4 linked regions of the Homo sapiens genome follow. The protein of the gene in region 4 purifies or fractionates together with the protein of the main gene of each other region. This does not show direct contact. Each region holds a gene or a part of one and is shown on either strand. Other genes may lie near its edges. The genes, in order: SEC22B, NAPA, STX12 and GOSR1.

Region 1 (7,681 bases), on a different chromosome or scaffold from region 4:
ATGACGACAAAAATATTTCTAGACATTGCTAAATGTCTCATGGGGGCAAAATCACCCCAATTGAGACCCAGTGGTTTTTATTAAGTTTTTGTCGACTCAGACAAAAACTTAATAACCACTGTACTTTAGTGCCTAACCACTGTACTTTACTGCCTTGTTCTAAGGCCTTTTAATGATGTCTTACCTCTTAGGAGTCCAGGAATAACTTTTTAATAAACAGATATCTCAACCAAACAGTTTTATATTTAATCACCTTAATTGTCCAGGCCAGATAATTCAATGTATTTTCATTTTTGTATGTTTTTGTTTTCTTATCAGTGTACTTTCAGTATTTACACTGATAATAGATATCATATTTTAGGTATTTACTAGGTGCCTGTACAAGCTGCCATATTACCGAAGATGGACAGTTATTCAGATAATACAATAGAGAGTAAAATTTACAAAATAATGTAGACAGAGTATTTTATACAGGGTGTTTCCTCTGTGTTTAACTGAAAATTTAGACTTAGGGCAGGAAGAGAGATGAGCTTTTCTTCTCAAATGTGGACTCCCTAACTGATACCCTGTTTATCTTTTTTCCTCATTCCTTTTATGGCATGTTTCTCCTTTTAGGATTTTTGCAATTTCTTTATCTACCTTTCTGTTCTGCCTCAAAATTATTGTATTTTCTTTCATTTTCCTCTGGCATCGTGAAGGGCAGTCCAGACTTGAAGAAAGTGTTAGATCTCACCAAATAGGCAGCAGGAAGCTCCAAGAAAGCAGATAGATAACATGTTATACAGTTAAATTGTCTCACGCTCCCAATCACTGAGGGTTGATTAATCCACTTACTGTAACTGCTTTTAGAGGAAAGTGGTTGGTTCTTGGTGCTGCTGGTCTTTGACCAGCTGAGTTCAGTGGGTATTGATACCCACTGAACTCAGCTATGAAAATGATAAAGAGCTATGAAGGCAAAAGTTGTTATTGATACAACTAGTTGTTCAGCAGTCTTAGGTGACAGCAACGAAAAGTATTGTGGTTGTGTGTCTAGTTACTACCTTCTATCTTTTGTAATATATAGATCCAAATCCTACATTTGCTGTTGGATAACCTCAAATTTGTTTCACAGTTTTTCCAGTTATTCTGATCCACTGCATTATTGGATTACTAATAGATATCTCATAATTATATCATATACAAATTTCATTAATCTTTTCTAGATGAAGTAGAAAACACAATGAGGATATCTAAATATTTTTAGGTGGACTGGCTAACTGTGGGCCCTTTGTGACTTTGATCTTGAAAGCAAACTAAAGGTCAGTATGTAAAACAGTGGTTAGGTTGTTTTGTGAGATCTAGATCAGAGCTGCCCCATGGTTTCTTGAGCATTTCCAATGAGTTAGAATTACATAGTAAGACTTCACCTAAAAGGTGGATCTACTATTGAAACAATTTCAATTATAGAGTTAGGGTAGCATAATGCTTAGGAGTAGGGGCTCCAGGGCCAGATTGCCTGCATTCAGATCCTAGTTCCTCCCTTTTTAGCTTAGAGGCTAAAAAGTTTGACTTCTCAAGTAAAAAATTGACATAATAATTCTAATCACCTCATGAAGAATAAACGAGTTAAATAATGTAAAGTGTTCAGAACAGTGGCTGGCAGAAAGTGAACACTTAATAATTTCATTTGATCATTTCTGAAGAATCTTTTCTAATTCCATCTTGCCTTTCTTTTTTTTTTTTTTGAGATGGAGTCTCACTCTGTTGCCCAGGCTAGAGTGCAGTGGTGTGATCTCAGCTTACTGCAACCTCCGGTCCCCAGGTTCAAACGATTCTCCTGCTTCAGCCTCCCGAGTAGCTGGGATTACAGGCACCTGCAACCCTACCCGGCTAATTTTTGTATTTTTAGTTGAGATGGGGTTTCAGCATCTTGGCCAGTCTGATCTTGAACTCCTGACCTCATGATCCACCTGCCTTGGCCTCGCAAAGTACTGGGATTACAGGCGTGAACCCCCATACCCAGCCTCATCTTGCCTTTCTTAAAGGTTCACAGATCAGAATTGCACATAATCGATACACTGGATGCAAATATGTAATGAATGAATGATTTTTCACATTACAAAATTAATTTGTGCATATTGTAGAAAGTTCAGTAAATACATAAAAGCAAAATGACCAAAATGTTAACAGTGTTTATTAACTATAATCTGTACTCAAATTATATCCATTTTGGTGGATGACCTTAAACATATGTATGTGTGTATAACATTAAATAATAGGTAATACCGTAAGACTGTTTCACCTAATTTTTTCCACTTAACAGTGTTTAATGAATATTTTCTCATATCATTAAACTCTATACAGCATTGTTTTAATGGCTGCATAGTATTCCATTGTATGAATATGCCAGAAAGATTATTATTTAACCATGAAGATTGTGCTAGCATTGTGTTCTCGAGGATGGTAATGCTAACTGAACCAGCATGGTAAGGTGTTGGTTGGCATACCATAATCCCTATAAATACATCCCCAGTGTTGTATATTGGCAGTCTTTACATTGCTGTTTGCAAATTCCTGAAATTGCAGAATGCTTTTGGCCAGTTTCTTATAGTTGATACAGTTGTTAGTCTTTTTCTCAGGTTACAGTAATGTTTACAGTGCCTCTTGTAAAGTCAAAGGATTTGTACCAATCTGAGTGGCAATTTTTTCCATGTTTCTTCAACTAGTCCTTTTAAGATTCTCACCTGCCTTTAGCAAAGAACATATATTTAACACCTGTGGTTGCAGTTATGTAAAAAATACCGATATCACAGCCCCACCTCCGAGATGCTGACTTAATTGGTTTGGTGGTGGAGACTGGGCATAAGTAGTTTTGTTTTTGAGATTTCCCCAAATGATTCTATTGTGAAGCCAAGGTTGAAAATCACCGATCTATGTTGATATTATTTCTTGGCACTTGAGCCAAGAAATAATAAAAATATTTCTTTTTTTTATTAAAGAATTTTAAATTAAATTAAATTTAATAAATTAATTTTATTAAATTAAAGAAATTTGCATGCTTTTTATCTACTCTTGTGGGTTCAGATCTCTTCAGAATGGCACTGGGGAAACAAAAAGATTGGTAAGTACCATTCAAATTTAGGAAAATAGAATATTGTGCACTAGTTCTTATTGGCTAAAAGCATATGACAGTATTCACTCTTACTGGCTGGCCATATATTAGTAGTACTGTTTAATATGATAATTTTGATATAATTATTATAAAGTACTGTTTAATATATAAAACTGTACATACATACAGACATACATATGTTAATATAGAACTATTTCTCAAATATATAACAAATATATGTCAATAAAACAAATAATTGCCATAACAGTGGTATTAAACAAGATAAATCTACAAACTAATACCTCAACTGGACTCTGCCTATCTCCCCTGGTTCACCTCATGCTTATTCACCTTCTTATTCTTATTGAAATTTCCAGTTCACCATTTTTACATATAGCTTAGAATCTTATTATCCTGTAATTGTACATTTGCTGATCTGCCACTTTATCATTTTATTGTTGCTTCCTTGTTTTTATTATCAGCTTAGCAGTACACTATCTACAATTTTAAGATATCACTTTGTACTTTATCAAAGTTAGACCTCAGATCCTGGGAGACCCTAGCATAAATACTTTTCTACTTAAATATTTAGTTATTAAACATCTGCCAAAGGGAGGCTATTCTTTCTATGTAAAATAAATAATTCCAAAATAGGATTATTTCTTTGCATCACATGGCAGTGTCCTAGTCTGGTTTACTATACAAAATACCATAAATTGGGTGGCTTATAAATGACAGAAATTGATTTTTCTAGTTCTGCAAGGTGAAGATCAAGCACCAGCAGATTTGGTGACTATTGAGGGCCTATTCCTGGTTCATAGATGTCACCTTCTGGCTGTTTCCTCACATGGTGGATGGAGCAAGCTAGCCCTCTGGGGTCTCTTTTATAAAGGTACTAATCACATTCATGAGGGCTCTACCCTCATGACTTAATCACCTCCCAAAGGTCCCACTTCTTAATACCATCACTTTGGGGGGTTAGGATTTCAACATGAATTTTGTGGGGGATACCAGCAAACATTCAGACTATAGCTGGGTAGCTGGCAGAAAGCTCCCCTACCCCACATGTGGATGGAAAAACAATGTCTATTTGCTTCCCATTCTTCAGGCACTTCCTTTCCCTGTTGGATCTAGTAGATTGGAGATGCATGGTTTTCTTCTTTTGAAATGACACTGCTGGTTTTTCCAGTAGATTTGCCCCCTCTTTTTAACAAAAATAATTGTAAAAGCAGTTAGAAATTGTTCAGGAAAATATTACCTGTAATTATAACATGTGAATGCTATTATTTTCATTTTTGTCTGCATATATCCCTCGATATTCAAACTTTTGCTGTCCAAACTTGGGAACCAAATAGATTTCTTCAGTAAAGGGTATCTGACATCCTAATCTTTGTCTCTACCCTTGGTCATTTTTATGTAATTGCAGTCAAAGTGTTCGTAATAATTTGCAGTCACTAGTACACACATTTAGTTTTGTTTAAATGCTAAAAACTGTAACACTTGTGGAAGGTTCTGCTGGATATTCCAACATAAAAATGAAATTCACCAATCTTGTTCCTAGGATATTCCCCTGAGTATAGCACATGCTGTGTAGTTCTGTGCCAATAACTGCAAATGAAATGGGTTAGGAGGAGAGTACTGTCCTAATAGTGGAAAGAACACTGGATTGAAAGTTAAGAGTGCTTAAGTGTATTTGAGGTATATGCTTTTGCTTCTTAGCAAATAACTAATGCGATCATCTTGAAGAAGTAGGGGTTAGGTCTTCCTCTGTACTCTGAAAGTAGGTTGTCTTTCCTCCGTTAAAATGAATCTTACTTACCTGTAAATGAAGGACCTCATTCAGAGTGTCCTCATAATATGATGCTTCTCACTAATTGATACAGCATTTTGTGGAAAATTCTTAAATGAAGATGTCTTCTTTCAGTCTGGCCGGGACCTTCAACAATATCAGAGTCAGGCTAAGCAACTCTTTCGAAAGTTGAATGAACAGTCCCCTACCAGATGTACCTTGGAAGCAGGAGCCATGACTTTTCAGTGAGTGTAATCTTGATTTCTTTATGATCATTTAAGTGAAATACAGTAACAGAATGCCTGATAAAAAATAATAATTTTTAAAAAGTAAAGATTACTTAAAAATGTTGTCTTTTGGGAGGAGCAACTTCTCTGGCTCTAATTCTACAAAATGGACATCTTGTTGGTTTTTTCAGCATGCTTACAGTAATTTAACCTGTTAACATGTGTCTATGCTGTGCCCATCATGCAATAATAGATAACTTCTTGCTTTAGGACTGTCTTGGAGCCAGATATGTGTAGGTTAGTACCCTTGCTCAAACATTTCCTAACAGTGTAACTTTGAACAGCTCACATAACTTCTCTAAGCCTCAGTTTCCTCTATAAAGTAGTGAAAATAAACATAGGAGGTTTGAGAGGATTGTGAGGGAATCTGTGTGTATTACTTAGCATCTTGTCTGACACACATGGGAAGAGTCAATAATTATTAGTTATTATTATTTTGAAAAAAGAAAATTATAAAAGATAAGAGCATCTTAATCAGTGGTTATAAATGATACAGCTGATAGAGGACTCAAAGGAACATTATTGGATTTTAAATTATCTACAAATAATTGGTATTTAATGTTTAATACATGCCAAGTTTGAAGCTGACAAAATAGGAAGGATTAAAAAGGAAAAGAGTACAAGAGCATCAGAGGAAAATAAAAACGGATTAGTTAAATAATCTTTGCCATTTTAGGGACTTAGATAGTAAGATAACTTAGGCCAGGGAGGAAGCTGCTATGTTTACTTTTAAAAAACAAAACAAAAATTCTCTACCTATAAAAGACAAGTAAAAAGTACATCAAAACAAAAATAAAACCCTAGGCAATTGGCTAAGAAAATGTTGGACATTATGTTTTATGATGTATTAATTTTTATAATATCTGAAATATTTTCTAGAACTCTAATTTTCAACACCAAAAATAGTCACTCACTTAATATCTAGTATCCTCATTTTCACCATGGTTTAGAGAACCAAGACCTAGGAAAGTTCTCATGGAATTGAGAAGAGATTTTCTTCTGCCTGATTCCTTTAGGACATTCATAATCTCATATCATCCTTTATTTCCATCCAAGAGCTATTAAGGGTTTATTCTTTGCCAGACCTTATATTGAGTCCTGCATTTAATGTCCATACCTTTTAACACTGTTCTCTTAGTAGAGAGAGAGACATATACTCAAACAAGTATACTATAATATCTTAATTGAAAAGATGTTGTAAATTAGATTTAAATGAAATGTTTTGGGAACAGAGAGAAGGAAGGAACAAATTCCCATTTGTAGGGGGTAAGTTTGAAGAAACGGGACAGAGGAGGGGAGTATATATAAAGAAGTTTCACAGAAAAAATTATGGTAGAATTGAACATATGAAAATGAACAGGATTTCTCCAGGTATTTAAAAGAGCATTAACGGTTAGAAAAAACAATATAAGCAGAAGTCCACAAATATGTAAAGAACCTAGCATGTTGGAGAACAGTCCGCCATTTGGTTTATTAAAATATATGATAGAATGTTGCTTACACTTGTTTTGAAAGGCTGTAAATATAATACCATGGAGTATGATTTTATTTTGTAGGTATTAGGGAACCCTTAGAGTTTGTAAGCAGGGTAATATGGTCATCTGTAGTCTCTGGGAATAAAACTGATGGTATAGAAGATGGTGTAGACTAAAAGCAAAGAGACCAGTTAACTCAGGTGCCCAAGCAAGGAATAAGACAGCTGTATTATTAATATTATTTTAAGGGGCCTGAGAGATCATATAATAGTCTTTATCCTTTATGGAGCCCTAGGATGCCTCAGGAGCCACATAGAAAGGGCAAGGATGGGAGTATATATAATGCTTTGGGCCCCTAAACTCCTCCTTATGTTTTAAATTTTTCCCTTTTATTTTCAGTTGACATGTAATAATTATACATATTTATGGGATACAGAGTGATATTTCAATACATGTATACAATGTGTAATCAAATCAGAGTAATTAGCATATTCATCACCTCAAACATTTATCATTTCTTTGTGTTGTGAACATTCAAAATCTTGTAGCTTTTTGAAAATACGTGGTAAGTTATAGCTAGCCATATTCACCCTACAGTTCTGCAGAACACCAGAACTCATTCTTCCTATCCAGTTGTAATTTTTTATCCATTAACTTGCCTCTGCCCATCCTCCCCTTCTCTCTACCTTTCCCTACTTCTAATACCCACAATTCTACTCTCTACTTCCATGAGCTCAAAAATTTTTTTTGGCTCCTACATATGAATGAGAACATGCCATATTTATCTTTCTGTGCATGACTGATTTTATTTAACTTAATGTCCTCCAGATTTATCCATGTTGCTGCTAATGATAGAAATTCATTCTTTTTTATGGCTGAATAGTATTCCATGGTGTGTGTGTGTGTGTGTGTGTGTGTGTGTGTGTAAAAAACACTTTTAAAATCCATTATTCTCTTGATGGACATTTCTCTTGATTATCTATCCATAGATATTATGAATGGTGCTGCCGTAAACATGGGGGTACAGATAAGTTTTTAA
Region 2 (7,681 bases), on a different chromosome or scaffold from region 4:
ATTTACACATACACAGACACACACACACACATATTTTTAAGTATTAGGATTTATATTTGGCCCTGTGGTCCAGCAATGAATTACATCTCTAGCAATTTATCCTAAAAAAACTAATCAGAAAAGTTACAAGGATGTTCAGCATAGCATTATTTAAAACAGCAAAACCCCCCAAAAACTTATTGTCCAACAGTAGGGATACACTGGGAGATAGACAGGAATTTGAAAACATAAAGGGTACCCTGTTTGGGCAGCTTCACTCTGGCTTCTTGACCTCCACATGTACATAATGAGCCTCCTCTTGACTTGGGGGACCTCATTAGTACCTCAAACCCGTAAGTCCCACTGCATTCTTCTGCCCTTAATAATACAACCAGGCTTAGCCCGCGAGGTCTGTAGTCTCTGTAACTGCTCAAACTCCCAATATCTACATAATCAGTAGAATAAAATCCACACACTCTGGAGTCCCACCAAATGGATTTCAGGGCCTCTCTTCACTGGCATAACTAGTGTTTAGTTTATTTTTAAGGAAGAGAAAAGGGAGGAGTGGGTACTTTCCCATTCAAATCATCCTCACCATCCCATCCCACACCCTGTGTCAACTGGCCCAACATTATACCTGGGAACTTGTCCACACCAACCCCAGCTGTGGAGGGGCTCAAAGGTAATTTTGGGAGCTGGGATGTGAGCATTCCTTCCCTCTGCACTGCGGATTCAGTGTGTCCAACCTGCCCATCCCTTTCAGCCACATGAAGTGCTCATTTCATCAAACCAGAGTCCCACAGCCACACACTTTGGGATTCGCTCAGTAGGGTCTGGATGGGGCCTGCAAATGAGATTTTTAACAATTGGGGTTTGGGGGGCCCAGGTAATTCAGCTGATCAGGTGAGTTTGAGAAGGAAAAATTGACTGAGACCGACTACCTGGAAAGCAGCCACCAGCGATCAGATCAGCGGCCAGGCCTGGCAATGTCAGCAGGCAAATAAATGCCCCCACGGTGGGCGGGCTGGTTGGGCCAGGGATCCTGGCCTCCTGAATCCACATCACACCAGGTAAATAATCTATTTATTCCTATCCTCTCTGTCATCTTGCCAGATGAAAAGCCTACCCTCTGCCTTCTGGGGCTGTGCTGATGCTGTCCCCCACCCTCTGCTGTCCCTGGGAAGTGGCCCTGAGCAATGTGTTCTTCCCGCACTCGCCCTGCTGCACTCTGTCTTCCCTCACCCACCTCACCTCAGCCAGCCCAACACACCTTGGGCCTTGTTTGGAGTGACTTCTTTTTTTTTTTTTTTTTTTTGAGATGGAGTTTCGCTCTTGTCGCCCAGGCTGGAGTACAGTGGCACGATCTCAGCTTACTGCAACCTCCAACTCCCGGGTTCAAGCAATTCTCCTGCCTCAGCCTCCTGAGTAGCTGGGATTACAGATGTGTGCCATCACACCCTACTAATTTTTGTATTATTAGTAGAGACAGGGTTTCACCACGTTGGCCAGGCTGGTCTCGAACTCCTGACCTCAAGTGGTCCACTCGCCTCGGCCTCCCAAAGTGCTGGGATTACAGGCATGAGCCACCGTGCCCAGCCTGGAATGACTTCTTTAGAACCCATTCCTGGCCTTGGAGAGGTAAGAAACTTTCAAAACCTTCTGGCTGAGAATCCTGAAGGGTCCTTTGGGGCCTGGCTGCAAAAAACCCTCAGAAGGACCTTCTCTGGAATGTTCTCTTAAAGGGACATTTTCAGACCTTAATCACAGGTCTGCCCACCCCACAGGTCCCCCAGCTCAGCCTTCCCTTCTTTTTGAGTGTGACTAAGTCCTATCCAGCTCCATGCACTCTCTGAAAAAGCACAGACCCTGGATGGGCAGAAATGACCCACGTCACTGAGTGGCCCACAGCGGGCAATCAACAATGAGCAGAGTCAGCCCAGCCGGGTTTATTTCAGGACGGACACAAAGCCTACCAGCTGCCCGGGCTGAAACTCTGTGATCCCAGGCTAAGCACAGCCAACCCTGCACGGGGTCAATGATTCTGTGGGGTGGAAAGGCCAGAGGGATTAACACCTGCTCAGGCCCCAGGCTTGCCTCCTTCTTCCCCTGCACCCCGCGGTCTTGCCCATTACCATGGCCAGGGGATGACAGGAGATCTCCAGGGTCCCATCCTCTTCTTTTAGAAATGGGAGTGAAGTCCCCAAAGGGGGAAAGTGACGTGCCTAGGTTCCAGTGGAAGATCCTGAAGAAGCCATTCACATACACATTTATTCACCTGGGGAACAGGTATCCGAGCATTTATTACGTGCCAGGAGATAACAACAGTACACGAAAGGAAAATCTAGCTGGGCCTCCTCTCCTGAGGGCCTGGGTGGCAGCGCATGTGACAGCTGACTGTCCCTCCCCCACTGACCTCCCCCAAGCTGCCTCTGCTTCACTCCTCCCATCCCACGGCTCTGAGCCACTCCGGGAATAGAGGGAACTGGTTTGGGCTGCCTGATGCAGGGCTGTCTATAATTACCCGCTCAGCTTTGCTCTCTCCCCCTCCAAGGCGGAGGAAGGAGTCTCAGGTCTCCCAAACACAGCCACCAACCTCAGGGACTGCCATATGGAAGGCTGGGCACTGCCAGGAATACACAGATGCCTGATGGGACCTGGGCCAGGGGGTTGTGCAGGGCAGAGTCTTAGCCCCCTCCTTCCTTCCTCCATCCACCAGGCACTTCCTGGCTGCCAGAAATACACCATGCCCTGAGACCCACCACCTGCAGCTCCCGAAGGACCTCACGAGGCAGGGTGGACAAAGTCAGGCCCCCATTTCGGGTCCTGGACTCACTCTATCTCTCTTGCCTCTGTGGAAGCCACAGCCACAGGCCTACGGTTTCCTCCTCAGACTTAAGGCCCACTGCCCCAAGTCTCCAGTCAGCACCCTCAGTGGGGAAGGTGTCCTAGGGCCCGTCACATGCCTGTGTCTTCCCTGTAAGCCCACCTCCTGCACGGCTCTCGAGACCATGTGCCTTAATCACGGCTGGCGCATGGCGTTCCCTGCCTCCCAGGCACTCCCCTGGAAGGAGCCCACAGCTCCTCACGAGAGCCCTTTGGGTGCTGCCCTTGCTTTACAGGCGAGGAAGCTGGGGCTCAGAGAGGGCGGAGGGCTTGTCCAAGCTTACCCTGCCAGGAAGCAGCAGGGCTTGGAAAGAGGACTGGGGCCCTGGGGATCCAGTCCTGCCCTTGCCTCTCACTCAGTGATCAGGAAGGCTTCCTTCCCCATGCCCAAGGCTCCTTGGGAAAATAAGGAGGGAGGACAAGGTCCCTGCCTGCCCCCACCCCTCCTCTAGATTAAAGAAGCCAGGGAGCCTGTACTGCCTAGGCTTCCCTCATCTCACGAGCAGAGGCTGCTCTCTGCTGGGGCTGCGTGGAGCATCCTCTAGGCAAAGGAGTATGAATTAAGCCAGCCCCCTACCGAGCCTGCCAGTAACAAGCCAACAGGCAGAAGGAACGTCAGAAAAAGTTAAGGCTGCCTGTGGTGCAGGGTCCACCCTGGCACAGGGAGCCGGGGGCCACCAGCCCTGCTAGTCCACTGACTGCACTGGAGCTGGGAGCTGCCAGAGGCTCAGCATCCTGAAGGCACCGCCACCAGTATCACCTGGAAGCGGGAAACCACCAGCTGCCTCCCGCCACTCTGCAGTGGGCCTTGCCTGACCAAGCAGAGTATGAGTTCCTGCAGGGCGGGGCCTGAGCCCAGCTCTGCTTTCCCATCTCTCCACAAGCCCCAGTTAACAACGGTGAAAGAATAAAGTGTCACAGGCTAACTGCCCAGCTCTGAAATCGCCACAGGACCCTCTTGTGACATGCCTGTCTGGGCAAAGACAAGGGGTAGAAAGAGAATGACTTTGGGGTGGCGAGACCTGGGCTGAAGTCCGTTTCAGGTACTTTGCTAAGTGTTCGACCTGGGGCTAGTTATCCCTGAGGCTTTTTTTTTTTAAATAAGAGATGGGGTCTCCCTGTGTTGCCTACACTGGTCTCGAACTCCTGGGCTCAAGCAATCCTCCTGCCTCTGCTCCCAAAGTGCTGAGATTCCATTCTTTATCTACAAAATGGCAGCATGTCTGGCCACAGTGGCTCACACCTACAATCCCAGGGCTTTGGGAGGCCGAAGCAGGAGGGTTGCTTGATCTCGAGTTTGAGACCAGCCTGGGCAACACAGTGAGACCCCAACTCTACTAAAAATTAGCCAGGCATGGTGGCATATGCCTACAGTCCCAGCTACTTGGGAAGCTGAGGTGAGAGGATCACTTGAGCCCAGGAGGTTGAGACTGCAATGAGCTATGATCGCGCCACTGCCCTCCAGCCTGGGCAACAGAACAAGACCCTGTCTCTCAAAAAATGAAAAATGAAATAAAATGGAGACAATGAATCTGGCCTGGGAGGAGTCTTTGTGAGGATTAGAAATGACACATAGTCAATACTTGGCACAGAGCGCAGAATGGAAAAGGTGCTCAATGGTTGCTATTACACAAAGGAAGAGAAATACGCTCAAAGGGGTGCCTGCCACCCAGGAATGGGAATTCTAGAGAGTTTCTTGTGGTGGTAAAAATAAAATAAAATAAAATAAAATAAAATAAAATAAAATAAAATAAAATAAAATAAAATAAATAAAATAAAATAAAATAAAATAAATGCTGACAGTAGTCAGACAGGCCTGGCCTCAGCGCCAGCTCATCGTGTGCCAGCCTGCGTTTCCTTATGTGTAACTAGGCATAAGACTCCACACCTTGCAGGGCTGCTGAAGCACGAGCAATCTTGCAGGCAGCACCCCACGGCGTGCCCAGCAGAGAGCTGGCCACACCACGGGCGTTCAGTAAACGAGAGCATCCCTCTCATCAGGCCCCGCAGAGGACCGATTCCAGGCACGCTTCCCTACTTCAGAATAGCAGCATGGGCTTCATCTCCATCCCAGATTAGCTAAGTAATGCTCCTCCTTCGGCTTCCAGAGTCCTGGCCTCCCATGCCCCACCCCTTACTGCACAATGCTCAAAATACATACAGGCCCACGGCCCTTCGAGATGAGCTCAGAGCCAGGATCTCACCTGCCACACGGCACACAGCCTGGCAGGCGCCCTGTTTCTTATTTTCTTATACGGATGCCCTCCTGCACCCCAACGGGATTACATTTCACCACAGACCAAGGGCGAATGTACTTCCTTTTTCTTAAAAGGTGTTCTCAAAGACCCTTGCCTCTCAGTAGCCCCATCCCAAAAAGGAGACGGAAATGTTTGTATGGCCAGGCAGCAAAGTCCTATCCATCAGGAAAGCCAGGAACTCTCGGATTCCCCAGAAACCTTGTGTGCCCTCAGGAAAGACTCCACTCTGAGACTGGGCAAGAGATGCCAAGTTTTCAGTTGTGGATCTTGGCAGCTGGCAGGGCACTGTGATTCACCAGGGTGCCCACTGGAAATGGCGCCGGGGTTTCTGCACGCTCTGCAGAGGAAGGCGGTCTGGAGAGAAATCTGGAAGCTCGTGCCCACACCAGTCTCAGCCAAGGCCCTGGGCAGGCCCTGTACAGACAAGCTGGCCCTCCCAGGGTCCCGCCGTTATTGCCTACAGGTAGTTCAAACAGGAACTGATTTGTCAAGATCTGATCTTAGGAATGCACTGTTTGTATACAGAACACCCTCTGCCACCTATTTCTCCAGCACTTCTAGCTCAACTTCCAATGACAATACCTACTAATAAAGATGACAGTGAGCCCTTAATAAACATTAGCAGAGCCAGGCAACGTGCTCCCACCACTTCCCACACATCGTCTCATTTATCCTTAAAACCACCTGAGGAAACAGTTACCATGATTTTCATTTCACAGATGAAGAAACTCCCTCTACACGTTTGTATCCAAGAGGAAGGAAGTTTTTATTTTGGCTATTTTGGGGACAGGGGAGGTGGCTGGGAAACATCAGGGATGAGGAAAAGCCCCAGGGAACAGAGCCGCCATTCAGAACCTGCAGGATCCCCAAACGGCACAGCAGGCACTCTGGATTCCCCAGGAGACACGCAGCAGGGAGGAGGAACTAGTGTGCCTGGACTCAGCCATCCCCTTCTGCTGCTGGCTCACTGTGCTGTAGTTAGGAAGTCTCCGTCTTTTTGCTTCCAGAGCAGAAGTTTGAGCTGCGCCCCCATCACCAAGGGGAGGAACAGGTATGGCTTTGAGCTTCTCCTAACTGGCTGGTGCTGTCGCCTTCAGTGGCTGCTGGTGCATCAAAGCCCCCTAGCGTCTGGCAGCCCAGAAATAATGAAGAGCAAGGGTGGCATCTGAGCACCAAGGCAGGCGACAGCACAGACACCCATCGCCTTGCGTCCCAGGTGCGGGCTCTCTGACTTGCCCTTTGACAGGGGCAGAGGCCCCTCAATGTGGGATGCTGTCATTGCTGGGGTTCCCAAAGGGGAAGGGAGAGGCACCAAGGACAAGCTGAGCCGCAACGCTCCCTTCTCCAGTCCCGGCAGCTACCAAGGACCTTGAATAAAGGTGGGTTATGAAATGTTGAACACAAGCAAACCCAGATCAGAGAGGAGGAGGTGCCTGAGTGATTCCCGCCCGCCAAGCAGGTCCTCCCAAGCTGGCCTCTGGCTGTGCTCCCAGCTCCCAGGCACACAAGCTCCGGTCAGGCCAGCCTCCCATCCTCCCTGCCCTCTGCCCTAACCTCACTCATACTCCCACAGCACCAGGTCAGCTCCTCTGGGAGCTGGAAGGAACTGAGATGAACACACCAGCTCTTTTTTTCACATATTTGGAGAAAACAGCCATGGGAGGACAGTTAAGAGGGTGGCAGCTCTCCAACACACCTAGTTTGCCAACATCCTTCCTAAATGTAGTGCCCAGAGATGGTCATGAACCTTGAGGAGAAACTACCGTGGTAGCACAGCAAAGGGGCTAAGTGAGAAGGCTCTGGAATCACACAGAACTGGGTTTGAATGCCACTTCTCCCACTTACTGTGGGGCTGGGCAAATAAGTCAACTTCTCTAAGCCCCCAAGTTTCTCTACCTCCACGGGGATTTTGTAAGGACTAAATCCATACCATCCATCAGCAGGTTGAGCCTGGCCCAGGCCAGGGTCTGAGTCAGAGCGAGCACTTAATAACCAGCATCTGCTAGTATTACCGGCACTGCAACAGCCTCCTGCTGTCACTCTCCCCCACACCAGCTGCTGCAGTCCTTTCTAGAAGGCAAACAGGAGCTCGCCAGGATGGGCCTCCCTTAGCCTCCTCGGAGATCTTCAGTGCCTCCTCCAGGCCCAGCCCTTGCTCACCAGACCTTCCTTGTCTGGCCTCACCTGCCGCTTCCACCTTTATGGTCTAACGTGGAACTCCCTGTGTTCCATCTTCCTAAGGCATGCTCCATAATAATCCTTGCCTGGAGTGCTGCTCCCTGCCAGAGAGCACCCCAGAACTCATGTTCATCCCCCCAGGGTTGGGGCCTCTCCCCCAGGAAGCCATTTCTGATCCCTCTGGATCTCAGTTCCCTGTCTTTCCAGGCAGAACCTCCCGTCACGGTAGATCTCTGTTGCACCATCCCTGCTGCCTAGAGCACCCTCCCCGGCCCCACTCCCCAGCAAGTCCTGGGATTCCTTGGGGCCCAGCTCACTCCTCACCAAGAGCCTCCCCCTGGTTCACGCTGCTTCCTCTGAGCTCAGACAGTCACAGGAATGAC
Region 3 (7,681 bases), on a different chromosome or scaffold from region 4:
ATTGTGGCCCAAACATGAAGGATGTTAAATGCTAAGCTAAGGGGCTTGGATTTAGTTATTTAGGAAAGTGCGAATTGAATTCAAAGGGAGAGACTGGAATCAGAGATACCAGTTAGGGCTGTGAAAATGAAAAGAAAGGAAAGGATAGGAGAGGTTTCCTTGGTGATAGAATTGGTAAGATTTAGCTATTGATTGGGCATTGGGCCTCAGGGGATCATTTAAGTCAACTGTTAGTAATATTAATAGCTAACATTTGAGTACATACTGTGTTCCAGGCAGTATGAAAAGTGCTTTACATACATTATCTTATTTTATAACAACTCTGAAGCACCAGTATCATTTCCATGTTATGTATTAGGAAACAAACTAAGAAAGGTTAAATAGTTGCCCTGCTAACAAATGACAATATCTGAATTTGAAACTAGGTCTCTTATGACCAGCAATTTGTCTTTTTATTACTTTTTATTAATATTACAGTTCTGGGCTGTGCTCAGTGGCTCACACCTGTAATCCCAGCACTTTAGGAGGCCAAAGAGGGAGGATTACTTGAGGCCAGGAGTTTGACACTAGCCTGGACAACATAGTGAGACCCCATCTCTACAAAAAAAAAGTTAAAAATTAGCCAGACATGGTAGCATGTGCCTGTAGTCCTAGCTACTCAGGAGGCTGAGGCTGGAGAATCTCTTGAGCCCAGGAGTTGGAGGCTGCAGTGAGCTGTGATTATGCCACTGTACTGCAGCCTGGGTGGCAGATCAATACTTTGTCTCTAAATAAATAAATTAAAAATAAATAAATCAATAACAGTGCTATAGCAGTTAACACTTCAGGTTTACAAGTATGCAAATAACTTGTTTTTTCACTCTCCAGAGGACACTCTGTGGGGGAAATACCTGAAGCCGTGGTGCTTTCTCTTCTCGTGGTGTGTTCATCTCCTCTGCCAGATTGTTAGCTCCTTTGAGTCAAGGGACATGACTTATTCATCTTTATATTTCCAGTACTTATCTCAGTCCCAAACATATGAAAGATTCATTGATCCACTATGCAACAAATATTCCTGGAGCACCTGCTGTGTGCTGGGGTGAAGCAGAACAAGAGATAAAATCCCTCCCCTGATTGTGTGTATATGTGTGTTTCTGTGTGCGGGGGGAGTATGTATACACACATACGTACATACACATATAAATAATGTCAAGTAATAATAAATGCTATGAAGAAAAAGCAGGGTAAGTGGGTAGAGAGTCAGGGAAGAGGGAGGGTGGGTGCATTATTTTAGTTGATCAAGGAAGGCATCTCTGAGGAGCTGACATTTGAGTGAGTAGACATGTGAATGAAATGAGCAAGAGCTGTGTGAGTAGCTGGGAAAGGCATTCTAGGTAGAGGGCAAGAGCAAGGACTTTGATGTGTTCAAAGAAGAGCAAGGAGGCTAGTTTGGCTGGAGTACCGTTAGAAAAGGGAGGCAGAATAGGAAAAGAGGCCAGAGAGGTAACCAGGGATCACATTATATAGGATCTTGATGCATAATAAATTGTATCAAATTGATTTGAATGAATGAGGCATTTCTACCATTTTGGAACTCTTCCTGCCTCTTTCCCCTTGTACTGTGTAGTACATACCATATCCTATGACCCTAGGCAGTGTGAGTTGAGATTCTTCCAGGCCGGACACGGTGACTCACGCCTGTAATCCCAGCACTTTGGGAGGCTGAGGCAGGCGGATCACAAGGTCAGGAGTTTGAGACCAGCCTGGCCAATATGGTGAAACCCTGTCTTTACTAAAAATACAAAAAAATTAGCCAGGCGTGATGGTGCACGCCTGTAATCCCAGCTACTTGGGAGGCTGAGGCAGGAGAATTGCTTGAATCCGGGAGGCGGAGGTTGCGGTGAGCCGAGATTGCGCCACTGCACTCTGGCCTGGATGACAGAGCGAGACTCAGTCTCAAAAAAAAAAGAAAAAAGAAAGAAATTCTTCCTTTGGAATTGTTTGGTGAGAAATGGGAAATCTGAAATTGATGGGATGACGTTGCATCTACTCAGTTATCAAGCTAGTGCCTATCCCCAAACCTCTCCAAGAGGCCAGCACACCCAAATATACCCTTAGAATATGAGCTCTCAGACATATATATTACCCACACACCCATACAGCCCTGCAAGGACTTGTACCCATTAAAAGTCTGAGAGCATAGTTATTCTTTTTTCTAAACTGTTCAGCCACAGATGTGGGGTTGGAATTGCTGAGCACATCAGCCTGAGATAAGGCAGCTCACTGCGTGGGTTGTTACAGGTACAGCTAAGGTTGACTGCCTGGTACAAGTGGTGATTATCAGTATGTGTTGGGTACAGAAGAAAAATATTTGACTTACTGTGGAACAAAGTGTCTGGGCAAGTATTGCTGAGGCAGATATAGCTGAAAACCTATTAGCCTCAAAGTTAACTCTGAAGGGATTAAAGAACAGCATTTCTGACTGGGCGAGGTGTCTCACGCCTGTAATCCCAGCACTTTGGGAGGCCGAGGCGATCGGATCACCTGAGGTCAGGCATTCGAGACCAGCCTGGCCAACATGGCGAAACCCTGCCTCTACTAAAAATCAAAAAGTAAGCCGGGTGTGATGGCAGGCGACTGTAGTCCTAGCTGCTCGGGAGGCTGAGGTAGGAGAATCGCCTGAACTGGGGAGGTGCAGGTTGCAGTAAACCAAGACCAAGATCGCTCCACTGCACTCCAGCCTGGGCAACAGAGCGAGATTCCATCTCAGGAAAAAAAAAAAAAAAAGAACAGCATTTCTGTTCTTTATGTTGCTAATTGATGTGATCTTGTTTACTAACAAAATAAGAAGAGTGGAGGTCTCACTCTGTCACCCAGGCTGGAATGCAGTGTGCAATCGTAGTCCACTGTAACCTCAAACTCTTGGGCTTTAGCGATCCTCTTACTTGAGTCTCCCAAATAGCTAGGACTACAGGCATATGCCACTGCGCCTGGCAAGTTGTAAAAGTTTTTTAGAGACGGGGGTCTCGCTGTGTTGCCCAGGCTGGTCTTGAATTCCTGACCTCAAACCATCCTCCCACCTCAGTCTCCCAAAGCAAGAAGAGTTGAACATTTAAAATTGATTATTATGAAATCCTTGGGGTTCCACTTTCAAAGTTATTTTCATGTTTGCCCCTTATTTTTTATGTTTCTTTGCTATCCTCTTAAGTATTCATCAGCTCAACATCTGTATTTCAACAGCATATTCATAGTGTCTCTGATTATGGTCTTGCCCCATTCTAGTTTATACTGATGGTGCTATCAGCACTATGTCTAAAGTCCTGTTTTTATTATACTGCTCACTTCCTCAAGAGCCTAAAGTGGCTCTCTGTTGTCTATTGAATCAGATGGTTTTTTTTGTTTTTGTTTTTTTTTGTTTTTTTTTGAGCCAAGTCTCACTCTGTCGCCCAGGCTGGAGTGCCATGGCGCAATCTTGGCTCACTGTAACATCCACCTCCTGGGTTCAAGCAGTTCTCCTGCCTCAGCCTCCCGAGTTGCTGGGATTACAGGACCTGCCACCACGCCCAGCTAATTTTTGTATTTTTATAGAGACAGGGTTTCACCATGTTAGCCAGGCTGGTCTCGAACTCCTGACCTCAGATGATCCACCTGCCTCGGCCTCCGAAAGTGCTGGGATTACAGGCATGAGCCACCGTGCCTGGCCTGAATCAGATCTTAATATTTCACCTTGCTTTCACTCCCTGCGATCTTAACCCAAATTAGCCATATTTTCTACTCTTCCTTACTCTTTGCTAGGAAGGCTATTTTCTTTATGTTTCTCAACTCTATCTTTCAGTTTATATTTTGCTCATTTGGTTCCTCCTTTTTTTTTTTAGAGAAAGAGAGTTTCGCTGTTGTTAACAGCCCAGGCTGCAATGCAGTGGTGCGATCTCGGCTCACCACAACCTCTGCCTCCCAGGTTCAAGCGATCCTCCAGCCTCAGCCTCCCGAGTAGCTGGGATTACAGGCGTGTACCACCACGCCCGGCTAATTTTGTATTTTTAGTAGACACAGGGTTTCTCCATGTTGGTCAGGCTAGTCTTGAACTCCTGACCTCAGGTGATCCGCCCGCCTTGGCCTCCCAAAGTGCTGGGATTACAAGCATGAGTCACTGCGTCCGCCCTTTGGTTCCTCCTTTTTTTAGTATCTTTTCTCTCCCTACCTCATTGGCTATCTAAATTATACAAATCCTCTCAGTTGTGCATAAGTCCTGCTGATAGCAATTAAGTTTTTCTTTGCTTGTTTTTTTTTTTTTTTTTTGAGACGGAGTCTTGCTCTGTTTCCCAGGCTGGAGTGCAGTGGGGCGATCAGGCTCATTGCAACTTCCGCCTCCCAGATTCAAGCAATTCTCCTGCCTCAGCCTCCCCAGTAGCTGGGATTACAGGCGTGCACCACATGCCCGACTAATTTTTGTATTTTTAGTAGAGACAGGGTTTCACCATGTTGGCCAGGCTGGTCTTGAACTCCTGACCTCAGGTGATCTGCCTGCCTTGCCCTCCCAGAGTGCTGGGATTACAGGCGCCCAGCCTTCCTTTGCTTTTGAAAGACAAAGTGAAGTCAGAAAGATCATGGACTCTCCGGGGTCAGCAGATCTGTGACTGAATCCCTCCCCTTCCATGTATTAACCTCGAGCAGGTTATTTTCCCTGCCGTGTGTAACCCCATTTATAAAATGAGTGAAATTATTAAAAGGGGATGTTTGAGGCTGGGCACAGTGGCTCACACCTGTAATCCCAGCACTTGGGGAGGCTGAGGCGAGTGGATCTCTTGAGCTCAGAAATTTGAGACCAGCCTGGGCAACTTGGCGAAACCCTGGCTCTACCAAAAATACAAAAATTAGCTGGGTGTGGTGGCACACACCTGTAGTCCCAGCTACTTGGGAGGCTGAGATGGGCAAATCGCTGATCGCTTGAGCCTGGGAAGCAGAGGTAGCAGTGAGCCGAGATCACGTCACTGCACTCCAGTCTGGGTGACAGAGTGAGACCCTGTCTCAAAAAAAAAAAGGGGGGATGTTTGAAAGTGTCTGGTATACTGCCTGCCTGGCACATAGCAGGCGTTCAATAAATGGTGACATTATTATTATTTTTATTATTTTGAGATGGAGTCTTGCTCTGTCACTCAGGCTGGAGTACAGTGGCGCAATCTCAGCTCACTGCAACCTCTGCCTCCCGGGGTTAAGCAATTCTCATGCCTCAGCCTCCTGAGTAGCTGGGATTACAGGCTCATGCCACCACGCCCAGCTAATTTTTGTATTTTTAGTAGAGACAGGGTTTCACCATGTTGACCAAGCTGGTCTCGAACTCCTGACGTCAGGCGATTTGCCCACTGCAGCCTCCCAAAGTGCTGGGATTATAGGTGTGAGCCACCACGACCAGCCCCAGTGGTGACATTATTAATACTTGTTGAATCCCTTGCCCTGCAATAGTTTAATAGTTAGGTAGGCAGGCTCAGGAGTCATATTGCCAGGATTTGAATCCTAGATCTGCTTCTTACTAGCTGTGTAAACACATTGCTTTACCTATTTCTCAGTTTCCTTATTGTTAAAATGGAGTTAATAATACCTATTTCATAGGGTTGTGATGATTAAATGAGATAATTCATCTACAGTCCCTGCTACATAGTAAGTGCTTAAGAAATGTTAGCTCTCATTTTGGTGTATTTCCTTTGAATTTATAATACAAGCAATTTTCCCTCACAGTTTAGCACGCACTTATATTATATATTCTTTAATTAATTCAAGCTTTTTGATATTGTCACCCCAAGCAGAGAGATCACTGTTAGTTTTGTGGAGACCATGCATTATACATTTGTCTTTAGTCACAGTGCCTGGAACAACAATGCATATATAGTTGGCATTCAATATGTACTTAATTGATTTTATTACTGCTAAGTACATTTTTCTTGGTCTTGAGTTTGATAATAATAGCTATCTTTAATTGAGTGCTTTTATGTGCCATTGTTCTAAATTTAGCTTCGTATCATCTCATTTCATCCTCACAACAACCATATGAAGATTCTCTTATTCTCATTTTTAAGGCAAAGAAACTAAGGCATAGAGGAGTGGAGCCTTTTACTCAAGATCACTTTGCTTGGAAGTAGCGGGACCACGACAAGCATAGGCATAAGCAGTGGTTTTTTGTTTTTTGTTGTTTTGAGAAAGGGTCTTGCTCTGTCACCCAGGATGTGCCAGTAGTACAGTGGTACCGTCATAGGTCACTGCAACCTTGAACTCAAGGGATCCCCCCACCTCCACCTTCCGAGTAGCTAGGACTACAGGCACGCACCACCACGTCCAAGTAATTTTTTAATTTTTTGTAGAGACGGGCTCACTTTGTTGCCCAGGCTGGTGTCAAACTCCTGGGTTCAAGTGATCCTCCCACCTTGGCCTCCCAAAGTGCTGGGGTTACAAACTTGAACCACCATGCCTGGCCATATAGGCGGTCTTAATTCAGAGCTATGCTCTTAACCATTGCATATTCTGAAACTGGTATGGTTAAAGGAAAATTATACCTTTGATATTTAGTATCCATTTTCACTTTAGTCTAGAACTTTACTGTTATGGTACAGTGGCTATTTTTTAAAGTCAGGTTGATGGACACGGTGACTCACACCTGTAATTCCAGCACTTTGGGAGGGCAGGGTGGGCAGATCGCCTCAGGTCAGGAGTTCGAGACCAGCCTCGCTAACATGGTGAAACCCTGTTTACTAAAAATATACAAATTAGCCCGGCATGGTGGTGGGCACCTGTAATCCCAGCTACTTGGGAAGCTGAGACAGGAGAATCACTTGAACCCAGGAGGTGGAGGTTGCAGTGAGCTGAGACCGTGCCATTGCACTCCAACCTGGGCAAAGAGAGCAAAGCTCTGTCTCAAAAAAATGAAACATTTTTTAAAAAAGGTAATTTTCATTGTAGTGATATAAAAACAGAATGTAAACCTAATTTTCAGAGTAAAACACTGAGATGACTTCATTTTCATAATCACCACATAGGCTATCATTTTCTCATTTGGTGTAAATAATGTTTTTTTGTTGTTGAATTTGTTTAAAATACTGACTTAGAGCATTCGATCCTGTCAAATGAAGAGAAATCTTTTTCCCACCTCTGATGATAGTTACTTTCAATATAATTTGACTTTGATTTGACTTTGCTTTGGATGAAGGTTCATTTGGAGATTCAGATTCTGCCGATATCAGCTTAAAGTACAAAAAGAATTTTCAGTTTAGAGTAGTTCCTAGTGTGGATGTTAGCTGTAATGTATAACAAATTGATTTGCTTCATACTCTTTTAAAAGTTTTAGCCAGGATATGCTTTTTTAAAATGAGAGGTCAGCGATAGGAGAAATTGAGTCCTAGTTGTTTGTTTTTTGTTTTTGTTTTTGTTTTTTTGAGATGGAGTCGCGCTCTGTTGCCGAGGCTGGAGTGCAGTGGCACGATCTCAGCTTACTGCAACCTCCGCTCCCGGGTTCAAGCAATTCTTCTGCCTCAGCCTTCTGAGTAGCTGAGACTATAGGCATGTGCCATCATGCCTGGCTAATTTTTGTATTTTTAGTAGAGATGGGGTTTCTCCATGTTGGCCAGCCTTGTCTCAAAACTCCTGACCTCAGGTGATCCACCCACCTTGGCCTACCATAGTGCTGGGATTACAGGTGTGAGCCACCACGCCC
Region 4 (7,548 bases):
TTCAGAGGGGGCAAGAAGGGAAATAGTAATGGTAGATGCAACTTCGCAGCTTTACTCCAAAGATGGCTAGAAAACAAATGTTGTTCTATCCTTCCTGAAACTATTTGTATAGCAATAACTAAAATTCTGCAATTCAGAGAAAAACAAGAAGATAATACAAATCACAAAGGAACTAAAAATATGGTTTATGACCAGCATTATCAACTTACCAGTTAATGTTATAAGAAAGAAGCCATTATTCTTTTGAAAGGGATTTTGCTTTTTATGTTCCAAAGCTTTATTAGGCTTATGAACTTCTTTTCATAATAGCAAAATGACTTACCTTTTTTTTTCTTTTTTTTTTTGAGATGGAGTCTCGTTCTGTCACCCAGGCTGGAGTGCAGTGGCATGACCTTGGCTCACTGCATACTCCACCTCCTGGGTTCAAGCAACTCTCATGCCTCAACTACCTCCCAAGTAGCTGGGACTACAGGCACACACCACCATGCCTGGCTAATTTTTGTATTTTTAGTAAAGACGGGGTTTCACCATGTTGGCCAGGGTGGTCTTTAACTCCTGACCTCAAGTGATCCACCCACCTTGGCCTCCCAAAGTGCTAGGATTACAGGTGTGAGCCACCACGCCCGGACCAAAATGACTTCTCAATTGAACATAAAGAAAAAAAGTTACCACAAAAATTGCCTTTTTCTTTCTTTTTTTCTTTTCTGTTTTTTCTCACAATGTTGCCCAGGCTGCTCTCGAACTCCTAAACTCCAGTGACCCTCCTGCCTGGGCCTCCAAAAGTGCTAGAATTACAGGCATGAGACATCGCACCTGGCCAAAAACCGCCTTTAAAAAACTTACTGAGGCCAGGCGCAGTGGCTCACGCCTGTAATCCCAGCACTTTGGGAGGCCGAGGCAGGCGGATCATGAGGTCAGGAGATCAAGACCATCCTAGCTAACACGGTGAAACCCTGTCTCTATTAAAAATACAAAAAATTAGCCAGGCGTGGTGGTGGGCGCCTGTAGTCCCAGCTACTCAGGAGGCTGAGGCAGGAGAATGGCGTGAACCTGGAAGGCACTGGAAGGCAGAGTTTGCAGTGAGTGGAGATTGAGCCACTGCACTCCAGCCTGGGCGACAGTGCGAGACTCCATCTAAAAAAAAGAAAAAAACTTACTGAAAGTAATTTGGAGGGCTAAAACTAACAATAAACAATGTGCTACTAACAAGGTCGAATATGAGTATGATAGAAATAAGTACATAAGTTTTAATAGCAGAAGCAAACAGGCAAGTAGAGAAATTGGTTTAGCAGTCTGGCATCTAAGGGTTGCGTGACAGAAGCCACAGTCTGGACACCCACACACAGATACGAGTATTCTCATTCATGGTGAAGTGAAGGTTAAAATAAAAGGGCAGAAGTACCAGAGGTAATGGTATAAGAATCTCTCTTTCAAAAAGAATACAAAACATTATTTCAATATGCTTTTCAACCAGAAATAGAAAGCGTAGTTAACATAGTGGAGCATATTTGCCCAGAGACCAAATGCCAGTTCGAATCTCGGCACAGCCACTTACTGACTCTATGATTTATCAACAATCTACTTAACCTATGAACTTCAGCTTCTTGTTTTTTAAACCCCTACCTTCAGGGTTTGCTTATGTATTGGTAATCATATGCTTACAGCAGCTGGCACAGAGTAGGTTGTCAGTAATGAGCCGCTGTAATATTATAGCATGCTGCTTCAAAAAACCACAGGCTAATGACTAGTAATAAAGATATCAGTAGCCTCTTCTACATAATTTTAAAATGTTTTCTAGCGGCCAGGCGCGGTGGGTCACACCTGTAATCCCAGCACTTTGGGAGGCAGAGGCGGGCGGATCACGAGGTCAGGAGATCAAGAACATCCTGGCCAACATGGTGAAACCCCGTCTCTACTAAAAATACAAAAATTAGCCAGGCGTGGTGGCATGCATCTGTAGTCCCAGCTACTAAGGAGGCTGAGACAGGAGAATCGCTTGAACGCAGGAGGCGGAGGCTGCAGTGAGCCGAGATCGATAGCGCCACCGCACTCCAGCCTGGGCGACATAGCGAGTCTCCAAAAAAAAAAAAAAAAAAGTTTTCTAGCTGGTACACACATTTCAAATGGGCATTGTAATACATGTTTTAAACTATAAGCACGCTTTTCTGTGATTGGAATAATTGTCTTCTCTAGTAGGAAACATAAGTAAAAGCATTTTGAAAGTATGATAGGCAAATCTGGATAAATTTAGAATTGAGTTTCTTAGACCAAGGGGCTGATAGTGACAATACTGTGGTTTCTAGAGGCTTCAGTGTATAGCAATAAAAACAGGTCAAAGGAATTTGGAAAGTAGTTTCTATGCGGCTGTAAAGCAAAGAGACAGTTGGGAGAAAAAGGTGAGCTTTCTCTGCTCTTGTTGATCATCATAATCCACGAATGAGTTTTATGTAAGCTCACTTTATCCGACTATAGTTTCAGGAATTAAACAAATGCATTTGTCAAATCACAGGAAGGTTTTTTTGGTGGGAGAAGTATAGCAAATGTAACTGCAATTCACACAGGTTCTCTCAACTTTTTCAATAAAACCGATTCTAGACTCTAGAGCAGAAGGGTAAGTTATTTTCTCCTCCTTCAAACACCCAGTCCTGGAAGTCCCCAACCTGTAGTTGTCATGGAGACCCAATAAGAGACATTCTGTCTCCTATTCTCTTCATACTTCCTCCGACGGACCGGAATGCAAGTTCCTCCTTCTCTTTTCCCACTCAGTTTTCCAATAGTGACCTCAGCTCCAATGCGCTGACTCCTCCAGTCTCCGGGGCTCTGGATCTTCTCCCTCAACATTCGTTTCCTCTCAGAGTTCGTACCCCAAGCCCCTTCGTCCGAGTTCCATTACTCCCTCAACACAATTCTACCCAGGCGATTGAGAGCCCTCTTCCTCTACATCCCCGCTCTGTCCACTCTGCCCAACCCCTGCCCCACGTCCCGCTCACACGCCCCGGCCAGGCCAGACCCCTACCCCAGACCGTTCGGTATCCCCAAGGCCCCGGGGATCCCACTTAGGCAAGCCCCGCTGCTCAGCTCGGCCGCTCCGGGAGTCTGGTTCTTTCCTGTGCTGCTTCTCCCAAGATCTGTCCTCACTCAGCCCCTCTCACCCTCGTAGGACGCACCCGGAGGCCTTCTCGCCCTCACCTTCCCAGTAACTGCTGGTCCCTGCCGCCATCTTTGTCGTCCAACGTCAGCCGGGATAGGGGAGCAGAGGCGATGCAGGCCGGAAAGTCACCATGGTGCGTGTTTCCGCCTTGAGAGCCAGGGCCGACGGGATGCGAGCCTCCGCGGACACTGCCACCTGCTGATCAATTCGTTATCTTACAGCTTTTAAGTAGCGAGAGAGAAAAAACTTCGGCTTTAGCTCCTGTCTTTCATTCCCGCTTTCTGCGCCCCAAACCATCATCATCTCCCTCATCTCGGCTTATCCTTTCTCTCAGCAGGTGCCTACTTGACTGGGAGGAGAATCATCCTCAGGCAACTCCCTCAATTTCCCTCACCTTGTCTCTAATTTGTATCTTCAGCCAATTTCTTCCTTTCTCAGACATAGAGACCCTTTCTTCCCAGAGCCATTTCCTTCATCCTACCTCCCCGCCTGTGCTCCATCATCCACGTTCTTTGGCGTATGCGCTCTTCTCCACTGGCTGCTTTCCTTGTCTACAGCAGTTCTAGTCCCAGCCCTCTTTGTCCTTGTCAGCCGCCACATCTAGAAAGAGTGAGCTAACTGCTTCTACATGCTCTCGGCCTGAGCCCTCAACCTGATAAAATCTGCTGTCCAAACCCACACTTTATAGATACATAAATTATCACAGTCTACCGGTGCTGACTTAATTCTAGTGAAGTGTAGAAACCTTAATTCCTGTAAAGTTCTTTCCCCCACTCATTTATAATATAGTTGTTTTTAAGTATTTCCTCTGCATTCATTGAGGAGAACCACATCAGTGTTACAATATTTGCTTCAAGGGTCAGGCATAAGTTAGAGAATTCAAGAGAAGAGGAAAGCTTACTTGATTTATGCATATTTTACTCTTCTTCGTTCCTAGTGTCCCAAGATTCCTTTTTCTAATCGTTTCCTTTCTGTTTCAAGAATTTCCCTCAGCCATTTTTTTTTTAAAGAGTAGATCAGCTGGTGACAAATTCTATTAGTTTTTCTTCATCTGAGAATGTCTTGATTTCCCTTCATTCTTGGGGGATCGGATATTGTTGCCAGATATACAATCTGAAGTTGACAATTTCTTTCTTCAGCACTTGAAAAATGTGCCAATTCCTTCTGGCCTCCATAGTTTCAGATAAGAAATTGACTAAAATTGGAATTGTTTTTCCACTGTAGCTAAAATACATTTTCTCTCTCACTGCTTTCAAGAACTGTTCTTTAGTTTTCAGAAGTTATGATGTGCCTTGGTGTAGATTTCTTTGGATTTATCCTGTTTGGGATATCCTCAGCTTCTTGATTCTGACATTTATGTCTTCTGCCAAATTTGGGGGATTCTCAACCATTGTTTCTTCCAATACTTTTTCTGTCTCATACTGTTTCTCTTCTTTTTCTGGGAGTCTGATGACGTGAATGCTAGATCTTGTGTTAATGTCCCACATAGCTCTGAAGTTATGCTAATTTTTTTTCAGTCTATTTTCCATCATTCGGATTTGGTACTATCTACTATTCTGTCTTCAGATTTGCTGACAGAAAGTATGTCTTTCCTCTGTTCCCTCCATTCTGCTGTTGAGCCTATTCGTTGAGTTCATGTCAATTATTGCATTTTTCGTATCTAAAACTTCTGTTCAGTTCCTCATTATATCTTCTGTTTCTTTGCTGAGACTCGTTTTATCATTTGTTCTAAGTTTGTTTGTAATTGCTCACTAAAGTATTTTTATTAGAGCTGCTTTAAAGTCCTCATCAGATAATTCCAACATCTGTGTCATCTTGATGTTGGGGTCTGTTGTCTTTTTTTCACTCAAGTCGAAGTTCTCTGGGCTATTGGAATGACAATTTTTATAAATTGTATCCTGATGTTTCAGGTATTTGTTATGAGATTCTGATCTTATTTATGTCTTCTGTTTAAGCAGACTTCCTCTGACACTATGCTGCTGGGGGACATAGGGAAATGCTTGCTACTTCCAGGTGGCAGTGGAAGTTCAGGCTCTCCCTTGGCCTTCACTGATTCCCCAGGGAGGGGGTGCCTTGTTACTGCTCCGCATGTGGTCCCCACTGCCACCATGGCAGGGAGCCTCATTGCTGCTGTGCAATGGACGAGAAGTCCAAGTGGGGGATGGGTGGAGTGCTTCATTAGAGCCAGGTGAGTGTGGAAGCCTAGCCTCCTCACTCAGCCTTTGATGGCAAGGAGTGAAGATGGGCCTCAGTTTTTTCTGTGGCATTTGTCCAGAGTGGTGAAATTATTGTCCAAAAGTATTCTGTCTTGTTAGGATACCTGTTTCCTCATCCCTTGTCTGGAGAGAGAAGGCTTTCCATTTTCCTTTGGACTTTTCTTGTCTGCACCCTTTGGCATTTCTAGGTTGCCAGTTTCTCCAGCACCCAGTATAGGACATAGGAAACAAAAAGGAAACCCAGGGAACTCACCTTCATGTTCTTTACATTCTGAGGTCCTTAGCTGGTCTGCCTTCTTCTTTCCACCTTTTTGAGTCTTTTTAAAAATATATATATATGATTTTTTTTTTTTTTGCTGTGCTTAGTGGGAAAAATAGAAAGAAATACAGCTAATCCATTTTGTCCAGAAGTGAAATTGTTGATTTAATTTTTAAATGTTTTAATTATCGGGCTGGATGTAGTGGTTCATGCCTCTAATCCCAGCACTTTGGGAGGCTGAGGTGGTAGGATTGCTTGAGTCCAGGAGTTTGAGGCCAGCCTGGGCAACATAGTAGGACCTCATCTCTACAAAAAATTTAAACATTAGCCAGGCGTGGTGATGCGCCCTATAGTCCCGCTACTCAAGAGGCTGAAGTGGGAGGATTGCTTGAGCCCTGGAGGTCAAGGCTGCAGTGAGCCATCACCACACCACTGCACTCCAGCCTGGGTGACAGAGTAAGACCCTGTCTTAAAAAAAAAAACCTGCTAAAATTCTTCATCTTGTCTTCTACTTTCTTGAATTCATTCATCATCATTCTTTTTTTTTTTTTTTTTTTTTTGAGACAGAGTCTTGCTCTGTCGCCCAGGCTGGAGTGCAGTGGCACGATCTCGGCTCACTGCAACCTCCACCTCCTGAGTTCAAGGATTCTCCTGCCTCAGCCTCTCAAGTAACTGGGATTACAGGTGCCTGCCACCACACTGGCTAAGTTTTGTATTTTTAGTAGAGATGGGCTTTCACCATATTACCTGGGCTGGTCTCGAACTCCTGACCTTGTGATCCTCCCACCTCAGCCTCCCAAAAGTGCTGGGATTACAGGTATGAGACACTGCGCCCGGCTTTTTTTTTTTTTTTTTTTTTTTTTGAGACGGAGTTTCGCTCTTGTCACCCAGGCTGGAGTGCAATGGCGTGATCTCAGCTCACTGCAACCTCCGCCTCCTGAGTTCAAGTGATTCTCCTGCCTCAGCCTCTCGTGTAGCTGGGATTACAGGCATGCACCACCACGCCCAGCTAATTTTGTATTTTTATTAGAGATGAGGTTTCTCCATGTTGGCCAGACTGGTCTCAAACTCCCAACCTCAGATGATCCGCCCACCTCGGCCTCCCAAAGTGCTAGGATTACAAAGGCGTGAGCCACCGCACCCGGCCCATCATCATTCTTTAAAAATTTCTGATAACTGAGAAATCTGTACTTCCCATAGGATTGTTTCTATTTTTCTTGATCATTCACAATTTAATCTTGTCTTTTGATAATAAGAACTTTTGATTGGATGCTATATATTATAGATACAACTTTGTATTAATCATTTGAGGATCTAGATGATGTTGTCTTTCTCCAGAAAGAATTTACTGCCTCTTCTTGCAGGCAGTTCAGGTAGGGGCAGATCAGCTTAATCCAGTATGGGGTGGAACTAATACCAAGAGGGATTCTGTGTTTGTTAAAATTGGTCTATTTTTGGTTAACCCTTAATTCTAATGTCTAGCCATTCAGGTTTCCTAACTGGAAGACTGTTTACCAGTGCCACCTCCTTGACAGGTGCTAACCTCATATTTTCCTCCACCCAGTGATACTGCCTAAAACTTCTGTTTGAGTTCTCTGTCTCTTGCCTGGCCTCTCTTCTGTCACCTATGAATTGAAACATACCTGGAGGTGAAAGTTTTACCATCATGCTCACCTCTCAGCTCTTTTTGTTCCGGGATCTTGATCCTATAAGTCCTTCTTACATTAGTAGTTCTCCAATCCTTCAAACAGTTTTTTTTTAAAATAAAATTTAGCTTTTCTAATTGCTCTTGACGAGAAGTCTTTCCATTTCAAGCCAATCCACTCACAGCTGGAAGTGGAACTAAATTTTATTATTTCTAATTTATCTGTAGATTATTTTGTATTTTCCATATATATAAGCATATCATCTAATAATGACAA

The links.
Region 1: the proteins of GOSR1 (region 4) and SEC22B purify together in Homo sapiens (affinity purification with mass spectrometry; 3 studies listed by BioGRID and IntAct, with this or other methods). This does not show direct contact.
Region 2: the proteins of GOSR1 (region 4) and NAPA purify together in Homo sapiens (affinity purification with mass spectrometry; 3 studies listed by BioGRID and IntAct, with this or other methods). This does not show direct contact.
Region 3: the proteins of GOSR1 (region 4) and STX12 purify together in Homo sapiens (affinity purification with mass spectrometry; 5 studies listed by BioGRID and IntAct, with this or other methods). This does not show direct contact.

The regions. Positions count from the first base shown.
Region 1 is NC_000001.11:120,166,284-120,173,964, reverse strand, and holds part of SEC22B (vesicle-trafficking protein SEC22b), read left to right. Parts: intron 1-5,015; coding exon 5,016-5,125; intron 5,126-7,681. UniProt on the Homo sapiens protein: SNARE involved in targeting and fusion of ER-derived transport vesicles with the Golgi complex as well as Golgi-derived retrograde transport vesicles with the ER.
Region 2 is NC_000019.10:47,504,721-47,512,401, forward strand, and holds part of NAPA (alpha-soluble NSF attachment protein), read right to left. Parts: intron 1-7,681. UniProt on the Homo sapiens protein: Required for vesicular transport between the endoplasmic reticulum and the Golgi apparatus. Together with GNA12 promotes CDH5 localization to plasma membrane.
Region 3 is NC_000001.11:27,775,950-27,783,630, forward strand, and holds part of STX12 (syntaxin-12), read left to right. Parts: intron 1-7,681. UniProt on the Homo sapiens protein: SNARE promoting fusion of transport vesicles with target membranes. Together with SNARE STX6, promotes movement of vesicles from endosomes to the cell membrane, and may therefore function in the endocytic recycling pathway.
Region 4 is NC_000017.11:30,473,106-30,480,653, reverse strand, and holds the start of GOSR1 (Golgi SNAP receptor complex member 1), read right to left. Parts: upstream 3,247-7,548; 5' UTR 3,221-3,246; coding exon 3,190-3,220; exon of another isoform or gene 2,842-3,189; coding exon of another isoform or gene 2,661-2,841; intron 1-2,660. UniProt on the Homo sapiens protein: Involved in transport from the ER to the Golgi apparatus as well as in intra-Golgi transport. It belongs to a super-family of proteins called t-SNAREs or soluble NSF (N-ethylmaleimide-sensitive factor) attachment protein receptor.